Regions from separate parts of the Homo sapiens genome. Here region 2 is linked to region 1. A link means that fine-mapping ties the variant in region 1 to the expression of a gene that starts in the linked region. Tissue or cell type: whole blood. Region 1 holds a variant in brackets; the other region holds the start of a gene. All regions are shown on one strand. Distances are from middle to middle.

Region 1 (8,108 bases):
GTAGGGGACTGAATAAACATCTGTTATCACAATGAGCACAAAGTACAAACTTATGGAGCCTGATAGTATGAAACTCAACATGTAATTTTCCACAGCAATATCCACATTGTAGGTAAGGTGTTAGATTCCTAGGATATCCTACTAAAGTCTATTTAGCTAATTACTTTGTGAGTTTGGTAGGCTGGCCTGATAGGAAACTATATTCTAAACAGCATGGTTGATATATAAAACGGTCTTTAGAATGAATGTTGGGAATAAGTTGTGTGCAATCAGACACCTTTATATATAAAACACATCTAATATTGGTAGCTGAGAATAGCTGCTGTCATGATGGAGAACAATTAATACAGCCACTATAAAAGCAATATAGAGCTTTAGCACTTAAGAAACGCTGTGAGACACAGGTTAAGAGGTAAGAACAAAAAAGACCCTTTCACTAATCCCTAGATGCTTACTAAGTTCCAGGCAGTACACCCAATTATTTACATCTATTATTAGTATCTTTGATTCTCACAAAAACTCTGCAAAGCAGGTAGTATAACATGCTATAGCATATAAGACTAGAAAAGTGGGAAGTAATATAAGGGTAAAGAGTTCATGCTTTAGCATCAAATATATCTGATATGTATTATATGCACAATCTTGGTTAAGTTAACTAGTCTCTCTAAGCCTGCTTTCTTACCTATTAAAAAAAAAAGAAGAAGGAAAATATGGTAGAATGTTACTGCTGTTCACCAAATACTGGTAAAGCCATCCTTCCTTCTAGGCACATCCTAGGGTTGTACTCACTGTCTGATTGTGGGCCTGGGGATGGAGGTGCGGCATGTGATTAGCTCTGGCCAATGGGTTCTGAGCAGAAGGAATGGAGTTACTTCTGGACCACCAGAGCATTTCATTGTTACTGCAAGGTCCTACAGAACTCTTTCCTTTTCCTTGGGTACAATAACTGGTTACATTTGCGAGGGGCTGCTCTGTCAGGCCAGGTGCCTGAGTGACCAGCAAGAGCAGAGTCTCCCTGTTAATCTAAATTGGGCAGGCAGCATGAGCAAGAAAAAAAAATGTTGTCTTAAGCCATTAAGATAATGGGATTGTTTATTACTGAAGTATAACCAAGACTATTCAGGCTGAATTTTTATTCTATAGTGTTGTGAGCATTTAATGAAGTAATATGAGAAGTATTTTTCAGTGTTTAGCATAGAGTAAATACTTAAGTCACACCTACCTATATTATTATTATATATTATTATTCCTCTCTAATAAATTAGAATACTGAAAATATAAAATCCAAGGGAAGCTCCGACTTAGAAGGAGAGAGCAGCATGTGGAGACTCACACTGTGAACTTTTGCTCCTAGAACTACCACAGGGACATAGCAGGAAAGCCAAGAGAAGCCACAGACCCTTTGAAGGAAGTGGATTGCTGCTGTAGGCTCCAGGAGACAGCTGAAAAATTCTGAGAGCCCAAAGTGTGAAAGTGTGAAAGGCGAACCGTCCAGCCCCGAACACACACCCTCACTGGGAAACCTGAAGGTCCAGATGACAGGAGAAGGTTTGACCTTACCTGGAGCTGAGACAAATTTAGAGAGCCAAGCGAAATATCAGAGTAGAGGAAGCAGCAGGAAGAGCTCTGTGGGCACTCTTGGTCCACAGGGAAGCCATTTCTGACTTTGTCTCATAGGGGTCCTTGGGCAGGACTGCCAAAGGAACTGGGAAAAAAAACCACAGGGAGAAGGAACCTTCTAGCTGAACTTCACAACAATTTCCACCGAACGCAGAGTTTCCTGGACAGAATCTGAGGAAGGGGGCATTGGAATCAGGAGTGCAGACACAGCACAGAAGCCATGGCAGGTGGGGAGGTGCAAACCATGAAAGCCCTGCTTGCTTTCTCAGCCGGGAGGCTGGCAGCCTGGGGCAAATTCTCAGCCCTGTTTAGCAGCTGCCTGGAAATAAACTCAGAGCTGTTGCGGGTGGTGCGGTGGGGGGCGGGGGGGGGGGGGGCACAGTGGGAGTGAGACTGGCCTTTTGGGCTGCGTGGGAGGTGAGTGAGGCCTGTAACTGCTGGCTTTTCCCCACTCCCTTGGGGACCTGAATGAGGCAGCAGAGGCAGCCATAATTCCCCTAGGAACATAACTCCATTGGCCTGAGAACCATGCCCCTATCCCCGACAGCAGCCACAGCAAGTCCCGCCCAAGAAGAGTCTGAGCCTAACCCTGCCCCCACCTGATGGTCTTTCTCCACCAGCCCTGGTAGCTGAAGACAATGGACATAATTTCTTGGGAGCTCTATGGCGCTGCCCACCGCCTAATCCTCCCTATACTGCCACAGCTAATGCTCTCTTGAAACTGCCACCTCCTGGCTGGAAGCCAACCAAATAAAACTAGCCCAATAAACAAAACTACAACTAAGGACTCTCACAGAGCTCACTTCACTCTCCTGCTACTTTCACTTAAGTGGGGGCTCGTATCCATGTCTGAGAGACCTAAAAACAGTTCACATCACAGGACTCTGTGCAGACACTCCCAGTACTAGCCTGGAGCTTGGTAGCTCCACTGGGTGGCTAGATCCAGAAAAGGAGTAACAATCACAGCAGTTCAGCTCTCAGAAAGCCACATCCTTAGGGGAAGGGGGAGAGCACCACATCAAGGGAACACCCCATGGGAAAAAAGCATATAAACAGCTGACCTTGAGCTCCAGATCTTCCCTCTGACATAGTCTACCCAAATGAGAAGGAAACAGAAAAACAATTCTGGTAATATAACAACACGAGGTTCTTTAACACCCCCAAGAGATCATGCTAGCTCACCAGGAATTGATCCAAAACAAGAAGAAATCTCTGAATTGCCAGAAAAAGAATTCAGAAGGTTGATTAATAAGCTAATCAAGGAGGCACTACAGAAAGGTGAAGTCTAACTTAATGAAACAAAAAAAATGATATAACATATGAAGGGAAAAATCTTCAGTGAAATAGATAGCATAAATAAAAAACAATCACAACTTCTGGAAATGAAGGACACACTTAGAGAAATGTAAAATATACTGGAACGTGTCAGCGATAGAATCAAACAGGTAGAAGAAGGAATTTCAGAGGTCAAAGTAAAGGCTTTCAAATTAACTCAATCCAACAGAGACAAAGAAAAAAGAATTTAAAAAAAATGAAAAAAGACTTCAATAATTTTGGGATTATGTTAAATGACCAAACCTAACCATAATTGTTGTTCCCGAGGAAGATGATGAATCTAAAACTTGGGAAAACATATTTGAGGGAATAACCGAGGAAAACTTCCCTGGCCTTGCTAGAGATCTAGATATCCAAATACAAGAATCTCAAAGAACATCTGGGAAATTTATCATGAAAAGATCATCACCTAGGCACATAATCATAAGGTAATCTAAAGTCAGGATGAAGGAAAGAAAATTAAGAGCTGTGAGGCAAAAGCATTAGTTAACCTCTAAAGGAAAACCTATCAGATTAACTGCAGATTTCTCAGCAGAATCCCTACAAGCTAGAAGGGATTGGGGCTTATCTTTAGACTGCTTAAACAAAGTAATTATCAGCCAAGAATTTTGTATCCAGTGAAACTAAGCTTCATAAAGGAAGGAAAGTTACGGACTTTTTCAGACAATGCTGTATTGTCTTTTTCAGACAATACAATCTTTTTCAGACAATGCTGAGATAATTCACCACTACCAAGCCAGCACTACAAGAAAGGCTAAAAGGAGCTCTAAATTTTGAAAATATACCAA[C/A]ATAGAACCTCCTTAAAGCATAAATCTCATACCACCTACAAAACAAAAACACAATGGAAAAAAAAAAAACAAGGTCTTCAGGCAACAAACAGCATGATGAATAGAACAGTACCTCACATCTCAATACTAATGTTGAATGTAAATGGCATAAATGCTCAACTTAAAATACACACAATGGCAGAATGGATAAGAATTCACCAACCAACTATCTGCTATCTTCAAGAGACTCACCTAACACATAAAGACTCACATAAACTTAATGTAAAGGGTTGGAAAAAGATATTTAATGCAAATGGACAACAAAACAAGCAGGAGTAGCTATTCTTATATCAGACAAAACAAACTTTAAAGCAATAGCAGTTAAAAAAGACAGAGGGACATTATATAATGATTAAAGGACTTGTTCAACAGGAAAATATCACAATCCTAAATATAAATGTATCTACCACTGGAGCTCCCAAATTTATAAAATAATTACTACTACACCTAAGAAATAAGATAGACAGCAATACAATAATAGTCAGAGACTTCAATATTCCACTGACAGGACTAGACAGGTCATCAAGACAGAAAGTTAACAAAGAAACACTGGATTTAAACTATACCTTAAAACAAATAGACTTAAAAGATATTTACAGAACATTCTACTAAACAACTAGAGAATATACATTCTATTCATCAACACATGGAACATTCTCCAAGATAGACCACACGATAAGCCACAAAACAAGTATCAGTAAATTTAAGAAGATTGAAATATATCAAGTATGCTCTCAAGCCACAGTGGAATAAAATTGGAAATCAACTCCAAAAGAACCTTCAAAACCATGCAAATACATGGAAATTTAACAATCTGCTCCTGAATGATCATTGGGCCAACAATGAAATCAAGATGGAAATTAAAAAATTCATTGAACTCAATGATAATAGTGACACAACCTATCAAAACCTCTGTAATACAGCAAAGGTGGTGCTAAGGGGAAAGTTCATAGCCTTAAATGCCTACATCAAAAAGTCTGAAAGAGAACAAAGAGACAATCTAAGGTCACACCTCAAGGAACTGGAGAAACAAGAACAAACTAAACTCAAACCCAGCAGAAGAAAAGAAATAATGAAGATCAGAGCAGAACTAAATGAAATAGAAACAAACAAAAATACAAAAGATAAATGAAACAAAAACCTGGTTCTTTCAAAACATAAATAAAATTGATAGACCATTAGTGAGACTAACCACAAAAAGAGAGAAGATCCAAATAAGTTCAATTATAAATGAAACGAGAGGTATTACAATTGAAATTACCACAGAAATACAAAAGATCATTGAAGGCTACGATAAACACGTTTACACACATAAACTAGAAAACCAAGAGGAGATGGATAAATTTCTGGAAACAGACAACCCTCCTAGATTATACTAGGAAGAACTAGAAACTCTGCACAGATGAATAACAAGCAGCAAGATTGAAATGCTAATTAAAAATTGCCAAAAAAAAAGTCCAGGAAAAGATGGATTTACAGCTGAATTCTGTCAGACATTCAAAGAAGAATTGGTACCAATCCTATTGACACTATTCCACAAGATAGAGAAGGAAGGAATCCTCCCAATATCATTTTATGAAGCCAGTATCACCCTAATACCAAAACCAGGAAAGGACATAACAAAAAAAAGAAAACAACAGACCAATATCCCTGATGAACACAGATGCAAAAATCCTTAAGCTAACCAAATCCAACAGCATATCAAAAAGATAACCCACTATGATCAAGTGGGTTTCACACCAGGGATGCAGAGATGGCTTAACATATGCATGTCAATAAATGTGATACACCACATAAACAGAATTAAAACCAGAAATCACATGATCAGCTCAATAGAGGCACAAAAAGTATTTGACAAAATCCATCATCGCTTTATTATTAAAACCCTCAGCAAAACTGGCATAGAAGAGGCATACCTTAACGTAATAAAACCATCTAGGACAAACCCACAGCCAACATTATACTGAATGAGGAAAAGTTGAAAGCATTCTCCCTAAGAACTGAAACAAGACAAGGATCCCACTCTCTTCACTTCTATTCAACATAGTACTGGAAGTCCTAGCCAGAGCAATTAGACAAGAGAAAGAAAGAAAGCGGAACCAAACTGCTGAAGAGGAATCAAACTGTCGCTGTTTGCTGATGATCTGATTGTATATCTAAGAACCCTAAAGAGTCCTCCAAAAAGCTCCTAGAACTGATAAATGAATTCAGCAAAGTTTCAGGAAACAAAATTAATGCACACAAATCAGTAGCTGTGCTATACACCAACAGCAACCAAACTGAGAATAAAAGCAAGAACTCAACCCCTTTTAGAATAGCTGTAAAAAAATAAAATCAAATACTTAGGAATATATCTAAACAAGGAGGTGAAAGACCTCTACAAGGAAAACTACAAAACACTGCTGAAAGAAATCATAGATGGCACAAACAAATGGAAACACATCCTCTTCTCTTGGATAGGTAGAATCAATATTGTGAAAATGACCATACTGCCAAAAGCAATCTACAAATTCAATGTAATTCCCATCAAAATACCACCAATTGTTCTTAACAGAACCAGAAAAAAAAATCTGAAAATTCATATGGAACCAAAGGAACCAAAAAAGAGCCTGAATGGCCAATCCAAAACTAAGCAAAAAGAACAAATCTAGAGGCATCACATTACCCAACCTCAAACTATACTATAAGGCCATAGTCACCAAAACAGCATAGTAGTGGTATAAAAATAGGCACATAGACCAATGAAACAGGATAGAGAACCCAGAAATAATGCCAAATACAGCCAATGGATCTTCAATGAAGCAAACTAAAAGATAAAGTGGAGAAAGGACACCCTACTCAACAAATAGTGCTGGGATAATTGGCAAGCCACATGTAGAAGAATGAAACCAGATCCTCATCTCTCACCTTTTACAAAAATCAATTCAAGATGGATCAAAAACTTAAATCTAAGACCTGAGCCCACAAAAATTCTAGAAGGTGACACTGGAAAACCCCTTCTAGACATTGGCTTAGGCAAAGACTTCATGTCCAAGAACCCAAAAGCATATGCAACAATAACAAAGATAAATAGATGGGACCTAATTATACTAAAAAGCTTCTGCACAGCAAAAGAAACAATCAGCAGAGTAAGCAGACAACCCACAGAGTGGGAGAAAATCTTTGTAATCTATACATCTGACAAAGGACTAATATCCAGAATATACAAGGATCCAAACAAATTAGCAAAAAAAAAAAAAAATCACACAATCCCATCAAAAAGTGGGCTAAAGGCATGAATAGACAATTCTCAAAAGAAGATATACAAATGGCCAATAAACATATGAAAAAATGCTCAACATCACTAATGACCAGGGAAATGCAAATCAAAACCACAACGTGATACCACCTTACTCCTGCAAGAATGGCCATAAGCAAAAAATAAAAAAAAAAAATAGACGTTGGCATGGATGTGGTGAAAATGGAACACTTTTACACTGCTGGTGGGAATGAACACTAGTACAACTACTATGGAAAACAGTGTGGAGATTCCTTAAAGCACTAAAAGTAGATCTACCATTTGATCCAGCAATCCCACTACTGGGTATCTACCCAGAGGAAGATAAATCATTAAACAAAAGTAATACTTCCACACGCATGTTTATAGCAGCACAATTTGCAATTGCAAAAATATGGAGCCAGCCCAAATGCCTATCAATCAACGAGTGGATAAAGAAATTTTGGTGGCTGGGTGTGGTGGCTCACACCTGTAATCCCAGCACTTTGGGAGGCCGAGGCAGGCAGATCACCTGAGGTCAGGAGTTTGAAACCAGCCTGGCCAACATGGTGAAACCCCATCTCTACTAGAATTACAAAATTAGCCAGGCGTGGTGGCATGCACCTGTAGTCCCAGTTACTCAGGAGGCTGAGGCAGGAGAATTGCTTGAACCCAGGAGGCAGAGGTTGCAGTGAGCCAAGATCGCACCACTGCACTCCAGCCTGGATGACAAGAGTGAGACTCCATCTTAAAAAGAAAAAAAAAAGAAAGAAATTATGGTATATAGGCCTGGTGCAGTGGCTCACGCCTATAATCCCAGCACTTTGGGAGGCTGAAGTGGGTGGATCACTTGAGGTCAAGAGTTTGAGAACAGCCTGGCCAACATGGTGAAACCCCGTCTCTACTAATAATACAAAAATTAGCTGGGCATGGTGACGCATGCCTGTAATCCCAGCTATTCGGGAGGCTGAAGCACGAGAATCACTTGAACCCGGGAGGTGGAGGTTGCAGTGAGCTGAGATCATGCCATTGCACTCCAGCCTGGGCCACAAGAGTGAAACTCTATCTCA
Region 2 (8,101 bases), 170 kb after region 1:
CTGATAATTACCATGATCAGGAAAGGCTGATGTGGCACAGAAGGCAAGAGCAACAGGACATTTGAACGTTAAATAACACAGAATTCAGGGAGTGTGGTCCTTTCTTCCCACTTAAGCCCTGTCAAAGAAGATAAACCTAACCTCATCCTTTTCCTCTTTCTTCTTGCTGTGATTTAAGTTGATTCAATAAATCCCATGAATGGCATATTTTAATTTGGTATATGACCTTTCTGTAACGCGACTGTACGTTCCTGCTTGCGCTATGGGATACATGGAAGGTAGTTGATGGTACCAGGCGGTAAGACTACAGAAGCAGAGGTCCCCAAGTTAGAGAGAAAGGCTACGAGGCCTGGGGCATTCTTGAAATTATCAGCACCAGCATGAACTGGGGACAAATCAGGTGGGGTGGACTGTTAGGCACTGATATTACCAAGAGAACCAATTCACAAATTGACCAGTCATAGATTTGAGACCTAAATTCACCAGAAATCATAATATCCAGAGTATAAGAATCTACACATGCATTTCAACTCCTCCTTCTTCATCCACTAGAATATGCAAACTCCCACTTTCAGCCCACCAATCTTTAATATATCCTGATGCCACATTGGATAGAACAGCAGGAGAAGCAGAAAATCTGACTCAGGATTCACCTGAGAGAAACAGAATCATCCAAAAGTGACATTTAAAATTAGAAGAGACTAAAATAACATGAACTGGCAACTGTAATTCCCTACACCACCTCAGAATAGGTGGTTTACTGAAAATAAAATAGATTTGTTACAGTAAAGCAGCTAAATTTTCTTTGTACACATGATTGGCAATACATTTTTGAGCCTACAACAGTATCATGAGCAGCAAAATTTCTTAACACTAACAACATGGCAAAGAGTTTAAAAAAGAAAAGAAATGAGGAAGATAAAGTAGGTTAGTCAATGGACATAGAAACTGAGTTTATTGGAACCAATTTGTGTCCCACTTCAAGAGTCCACACACACATACAGACACACAAAGATACACACAGACACACACACACACACACACGTACGTACTACAGATATCTAGTACTCATTATACTGTCTGAAGTATTAATGTCTTCAGCAGCAGGATATTTCAGTAGTTGCTACATATATGTATAAGTATGTAAGTCCTAAATGTTGGGGTTCAAAAAGCTATACCCCAAAATATGGTGCTTTGGCATGCTGGGTATTTTTAATTAAAATGTCTCAGAAATAAGCCTCAGAACCAAGGTCTCTCTCTGCCTTTCCACTCTCCTGCCCTCCCTCAGTCTCTCTTTTTCTTTCCTAAAGCACTGAGAGTGACTCTCTCTGGAATTTCCTTATCTGATTAAGGAAGCTTCTTTCCAAAAGAAATGCAATTGTCTTAAGATCTACTTCCTGAGAATCTCATCAAATAACCATGAAAAATTAACCATCAGAAAAGAGACTAAAAGCTGTCACCATATCCACACTGACTTTTCATCTATTCTTCTGAGGACAGCTCCAAGAGATTGGCTGGGAGACTTTATCTGCATAAAAACACAACCTTCATTCCACCCCTCACCTTTCCACCACCTCACCATAGCTCAGGGAAACGCTGTCCCAGGCCATGCTCTTTGAACCCATTCATTCACTTTAAAAATTATTTACTACCTCTCTAAAATTACCTGCAGCTCCCTACTTCTCTCTTCCCCAAAAAGAAGGCATTTAAGCTTCAACCACCTGGCCCTTCTTTGAATCTCATATTTGAGGGGCTCTCATATCCATATACATATTAATAAATTTGTAACTCTTTTTCTCCTATTAATCTATTGCCAATTGTTTCAATAAAATTGCAGAAAGGGCAGAGGAAAAGCTTTCTCTTCACTCCTACACAAAGTAAAAAGTAGTGTATCAGCTCATTGAATGTATTAATGTGTGACTTAGTTCTCCCTTTTTTGTCACGATGTTTAAAATTTTTTTTGTTGTTCTCCAAAAGCTATCTTTTTCCAGATATGCTATGGTACAACTGTTGAAAATGTATTTCCTCCTACAGTAAAACCAAGACAGCACAATCAAAGGCCAACCTTAAGGAGAAGGGTAGAAATGATTGAGAATTACTCATCTACCAGAGTGAATAATCTCTTACACTGTGTGATTTTTATGTCAACTTTAACTGAAATTTTATACATGCTTTGGATATAAATTAAGGGAAAATATAAAGTTTTATACATGAGTCAGTGTGCATTCCAGTCAAGGTAGAGATCAATATATTGCAGGTCAAGGGAAAGAAGTAAAGATCTAATCAGACAATCAGAGATGACTACCAATCTTCATGACCTATCTGCTGCCTCATTCTACACATTTTCAGTTCTGTATTGTTTCTTTTATAAAGCTAGAAAAATAGAAGGGCCACCTCTGCAGTAAAGTAAAAGTCAGTATTTTACACATAGATAAATCAGATTTTGAAGGAAACTCTTTGGGGTGATAAAAAAAGAATAACCACATGGATACCTGGATGCTACTAAGCCTCAGAGTTAAAAGGAAGACAGAGTGACATACATGGTGCTGAAAAGTTTTGAGCCTGGAAACAAGGTCATCCTGCAGTTTCACTAAGAAAACTTAATCTATAGGGCTGGTCTACCATTTGGTGACCATTTGGTGACCATTTGGTGTCTGTGTGTCAAAAATTGCTCAGATATTTCTAAACACTTCAGAATGCCATCAGAAGCTACAGCAAATTGCAGCTCTTTCTGAAACACACACAAAAAAAGAGGATCTGGCCTGAGTGTGATTTTTTAAGTGAGCAGTTAAGGTGATAATAAGGAAGAAGATATTTCTCATTTAATACATTCTAGAAAATAAAATGTCCCTATGGAATACAATAGCAACTTGAAACATAAATATGTGTAATTCTCATACAGATATATGCATTTTCTATATAGTACAATCAAAATTTAAATTACAGCATTCTGCAAATTATATAATTGACAATTTTTGATTATTACAAAAGGTTTTGTACAAGCACCAGCAGAATAATTTAGAAATTCATAAATTCTAAAAATTCTAAAACTCCAGAAATATGCACATTTTCCCAAGGATTTTATTTCAGTGTTATTTATTAATGCTACTGTGTTATAACAACCATTCATTTCTACAGTTTAAGGATACACAAACATTTATCAACTGAGCTTCTCCACCATCACTTTCAGCAATCATGCTGAAACAGAAACTCCAGAATTACTAAACGAAAATAGAAATATAAAACAGAAAAATGTCACACACATACTCAAAAGTAATAAATTAATGGTTACTTCAATTCCTCCTCAAGCTAGCCACAAGATTTCTCTAATAGCTATAATGAAGCATTCATGTTTAACTATTCAGGGACAAGAAAGTCTAAAATGCTTGAAAGTGCTCTACTTTAAATCAAGTTGACTTAACGGAATAAATCAGCATGCATCTTTCACCTTTTTTGGAAACTAAAGTGCACAAATATGCTGAATGCCATCCCAAATCCTGCCTAATACCCATTTAAGTAGATAGGAATTTAAGTAACAAATCTTTCCCCACCTCCTGGGAAGGAAAAATAAGTTACACAAACATCTCATCAAAACAAGGAAGGCAAGGCCCTCTCCTAAAAACTGGCAGTAAACACAGAAGACAGAAGAAGGCCTATACTTACACAGATGGCTAGAGCTCCTGCCCCCATTCTCTCAGAAAGCGTCTGGAAGAACTGAGGAAGACCAGACGAAAATATTAAAACGACAGCAAAATACTAAAATTCCATTCAGCACATATTCTTTGATGTGAAAAACAGCTCCCAATGCAAAGGCCCCAAGGTAAGCGAAGAGCAGCTTCTAACATTTTAGGAAGAGTGGTTTTGCTTCTCTTTCCGCTGAACCCACATGGCTGGAAGGACTGCCTGGAGTTGAAATTTGATCCACAGCCTCAGTGCTGGCAAGTAGAGGGAGTCACGTGACACGGGTCTTAAGTCGCTGACATCTTTTTTTCAAACCTGACTCCCTAGATCCTACACACAGGCTTCTTTGACTCCGAAAACTGCCAGTCACCTGGTGGCTTTCATTAATAGAACCAACAGTGCATAAAGTGAAAACACAGACTTGCTTCCCAGATTCCACACAGCTCTAAGCAAAATGTACGTATTCAGACTCAGGTTTAAAACTGCAGGCACATTATTCATTTTTTCTGAGGCAGTTTTCTCTTCTACTCTTCCTTAGAAACCAGCTAAATTCTACCAAAATTTTCTTCCTTCCATGCTACCCCATCAGAATTGTTTTAAATGAAAATGCTCTATTTTATGTAGCCGTTACTACTTCTAATTATGTATGAGTTGTCTTATAAAAATATACTGATGATAAACATAAACAACATACTTCTAGACAACCATAATTCTACATATGTGATTTGCAGTCTGAAAAATTAGCTAACTGACTTTTCAATAACTTTCTCTTCCACATGCTGTCACTAGAAAATTTGATAGATTTTAAAATTTACAAATATTTGAACTAATAGCTAAAATAGCCACTTCAGGTAAGCCAAAAGGAAACTATCCTATTTTTATTTTTGTTACCATTTTTTCTGTCAATTTGTTTTTCTTTTTTCTTTTGCTGTACCTATTGACCCATCCTCTAAGTTCTCTCCCCTCACCCCCAACCTCCCAACAGGCCCTGATGTGTGTTGTTTCCCCTTTGTGTCCATGTGTTCTCAATGTTCAACTCCCACTTATGAGTGAGAACATGTGGTGTCTGGTTTTCTGTTCCTGTGGTAGTTTGCTGAGGATGACGGCTTCTAGCTTCATACATGTCCATGCAAAAGACATGATCTTGTTCCTTATTATGGCTGCATAGTATTCCATGGTGTATATGTACCACATTTTCTTTATCCAGTCTATCATTGATGGGCATTTGAGTGGGTTCCATGTCTTTGCTATTGTAAACAGTGCTGCGATAAACATATGTGTGTATGTGTCTTTATAGCAGAATGATTTATACTCCTTTGGGTATATACCCAGTAATGGGACTGCTGGGTCAAATGGTATTTCTGGTTCTAGATCCTTGAGGAATCTCCATACTGTCTTCCACAATGGTTGAACTAATTACATTCCCACGGACAGTGTAAAAGCGTTCCTATTTCTCCACATCCTCTCTAGCATCTGTTGTTTCCTGACTTCTCAATAATTGCCATTCTAACTGGCTCGAGATAGTATCTCATTGTGGTTTTGATTTGCATTTCTCTGATGATCAGTGATGGTGAGCTTTTCTTCATAGGTTTGTTGGCTACATAAATGTCTTCTTTTGAGAAGTGTCTGTTCATATCCTTTGCCCACTTTTTGATGGGGTAGTTTGTCTTTTTCCTGTAAATTTGTTTAAGTTCCTTATGGATTCTGGATATGAGACCTTTGTCAGATGCATAGTTTGCAAATATTTTCTCCCATTCTGTAGGCTGCTTGTTCACTCTGATGATAGTTTCTTTTGCTGTGCAAAAGCTCTTTAGTTTAATTAGATCCCATTTGTCAATTTTGGCTTCTGTTGCCATTGCTTTTGGCATTTTTGTCTCTGCCCATGCCTATGCCCTGAATGGTATTGCCTAGGTTTTCTTCTAGGGTTTTTATAGTTTTGGGTTTTACATTTAAGTCTTTAATCCATCTTGAGATAATTTTTGTATAAGGTCTAAGGAAGGGGTCCAGTTTCAGTTTTTTGCATATAACTAGCCAGTTTTCCCAGGACCATTTACTGAATGGGAGATCATTTTCCCATTGCTTGTTTTTTGTCAGATTTGACGAAGATTAGATTGTTGTAGACATGTGGTGTTATTTCTGAGGTCTCCGTTCTGCTCCATTGGTCTGTATGTCTGTTTTGGTACCAGTACTGTGCTGTTTTGGTTACTGTAGCCTTGTAGTATAGTTTGAAGTCAGGTAGCATGATGCCTCCTGCTTTGTTCTTTTTGCTTAGGATTGTCTTGTCTATATGGGGTCTTCTTTGATTCTGGATGAAATTTAAAATAGTTTTTCTAATTCTGTGAAGAATGTCAATGGTAGTTTGATGGGAATAGCATTGAATCTATAGATTACTTTGGGCAGTAGGGCCATTTTCATGATCATGATTCTTCCTATCCACGAGGATAGAATGTTTTTCCATTTGTTTGTGTTCTCTCTTATATCCTTGAGCAGTGGTTTGTAGTTCTCCTTGAAGAGGTCCTTCACATCCCTTGATAGCTGTATACCTATGTATTTTATTCTCTTTGTAGCGATTGTGAATGGGAGTTCATTCATGATTTGCCTCTCTGCTTGCCTATTGTTGGTGTAAATGAATGCTTGTGATTTTTATACATTGATTTTGTATCCTGAGACCTTGCTGAAGTTCCTTATCAGTTCAAGAAGTTTTGGGGCTGAGATGATGGGGCTTCCTAAATATAAAATCAAGTCGTCTGCAAACAGAGATAACTTGATTTCTTCTCTTCCTATTTGAATACCCTTTATTTCTTTCTCTTGTTTGATTGCCTTGGCCAGAACTTCCAATACTATGTTGAATACAAGTGGTGAGAGAGGGCATCCTTGTCTTGTACCAGTTTTCAAAGGGAATGCTTCCAGCTTTTGCCCATTCAATATGATATTGGCTGTGGATCTCTCATAAATAGCTTTTATTATTTTGAGATCTGTTCCATCAATAACTAGTTTATTGAGAGTTTTTAACATGAAGGGATGTTGAATTTTATCAAAGGCCTTTTCTGCATCTGTTGAGATAATCATGTGGTTTTTGTCTTTGGTTCTGTTTATGTGATGGATTATATTTATTGATTTGTGTATGTTGAACCAGCCTTGCATCCCAGAGATGAAGCCGACTTGATCATGGTGGATAAGTTTTTTGATGTGCTGCTGGTTTCAGTTTGCCAGTATTTTACTGAGGATTTTTCACATCAATGTTCATCTATGGTATTGGCCTGAAGTTTTTTTGTGGTTGTTGTGTTTCTTCCCAGTTTGGGTACCAGGATGATGCTGGCTTCATAAAATGAGTTAAGGAGGAGTCCCTCCTTCTAAATTGTTTAGAATAGTTTCAGAAGGAATGGTACCAGCTCCTCTTTGTATTTCTGGTAGAATTCAGCTGTGAATCCATCTGGTCCTGGGCTTTTTTGGTTGGTAAGCTATTAATTACTACATCAGTTTCAGGCTTGTTATTGGTCTATGCAGGGATTCAACTTCTTCCTGGTTCAGTCTTGGTAAGGTGTATGCATCCAGGAGTTTAATCATTTCTTCTAAATTTTCTAGTTTGTTTGCATAGAGGTGTTTGTAGTATTCTCTGATGGTAGTTTGTATTTCTGTAGGATCAGTGGTGATATCCCTTTTATCATTTTTTTATTGGGTCTATTTGATTCTTCCTTCTCTGTTTTCTTCTTTATTAGTCTAGCCAGCAGTCTATCTATTTTGTTAATTTTTTCAAAAAAAACCAATCTTCTGGATTTATTTTTTTGGAGGGTTTTTTGTGTCTCTATCTCCTTCAATTCTTCTCTGATCTTAGTTATTTCTTGTCTTATGCTAGCTTTTGGATTAGTTTCCTCTTGCCTCTAACTCTTTTGTGATGTTAGGGTGTCAATTTGAGATCTTTGTAGCTTTCTGATGTGGGCATTTAGTGCTATAAATTTCCCTCTTAACACTGCTTTAGCTGTGTCCCAGATATTTTGGTACGTTCTTTGTTCTCATTGGTTTCAAAGAACTTCTTTGAATTTCTGCCTTAATTTCATTATTTACCCAGAAGTCATTCAGGAGCAGGCTGTTCAATTTCCATGAAATTGTGTGGTTTTGAGTGAGTTTATTAATCCTGAGTTCTAATTTGATTGCACTGAGAGACTGTTTATGATTTCAGTTCTTTTACATTTGCTGAGGAGTGTTTTACTTCCAATTACATGGTAAATTTTAGAATAATTGCCATGTGGCACTGAGAACAATTTATAGTCTGTTTATTTGGGGTAGAGAGTTCTGTAGACATCTACTAGGTCCACTTGATCCAGAGCTGAGTTCAAATCCTGAATATCCTTGTTAGTTTTCTGTCTCTTTGATCTGTCTAATACTGATAGTGAGATGTTAAAGTCTTCCACTACTATTG

What was found. PIP is the estimated chance that this variant, and not a neighbour inherited with it, causes the effect.
Region 2: it holds the start of FAM13A, and the variant in region 1 is fine-mapped to the expression of FAM13A in whole blood (TOPMed, PIP above 0.99).

The regions. Positions count from the first base shown.
Region 1 is chr4:88,878,801-88,886,908 of GRCh38, forward strand. All of the region lies in intron 6 of FAM13A (family with sequence similarity 13 member A), which reads right to left. Among named protein-coding and RNA genes, the nearest start is that of FAM13A-AS1, 170 kb to the left of the region's middle. The variant C/A (reference allele first, on the strand shown) is at 3,744.
Region 2 is chr4:89,053,275-89,061,375 of GRCh38, forward strand. It overlaps FAM13A (family with sequence similarity 13 member A), which reads right to left and starts at 3,911. Exons shown (of 24, transcript NM_014883.4): 1 at 3,664-3,911. The coding sequence starts at 3,690. RefSeq lists an enhancer at 3,212-3,774.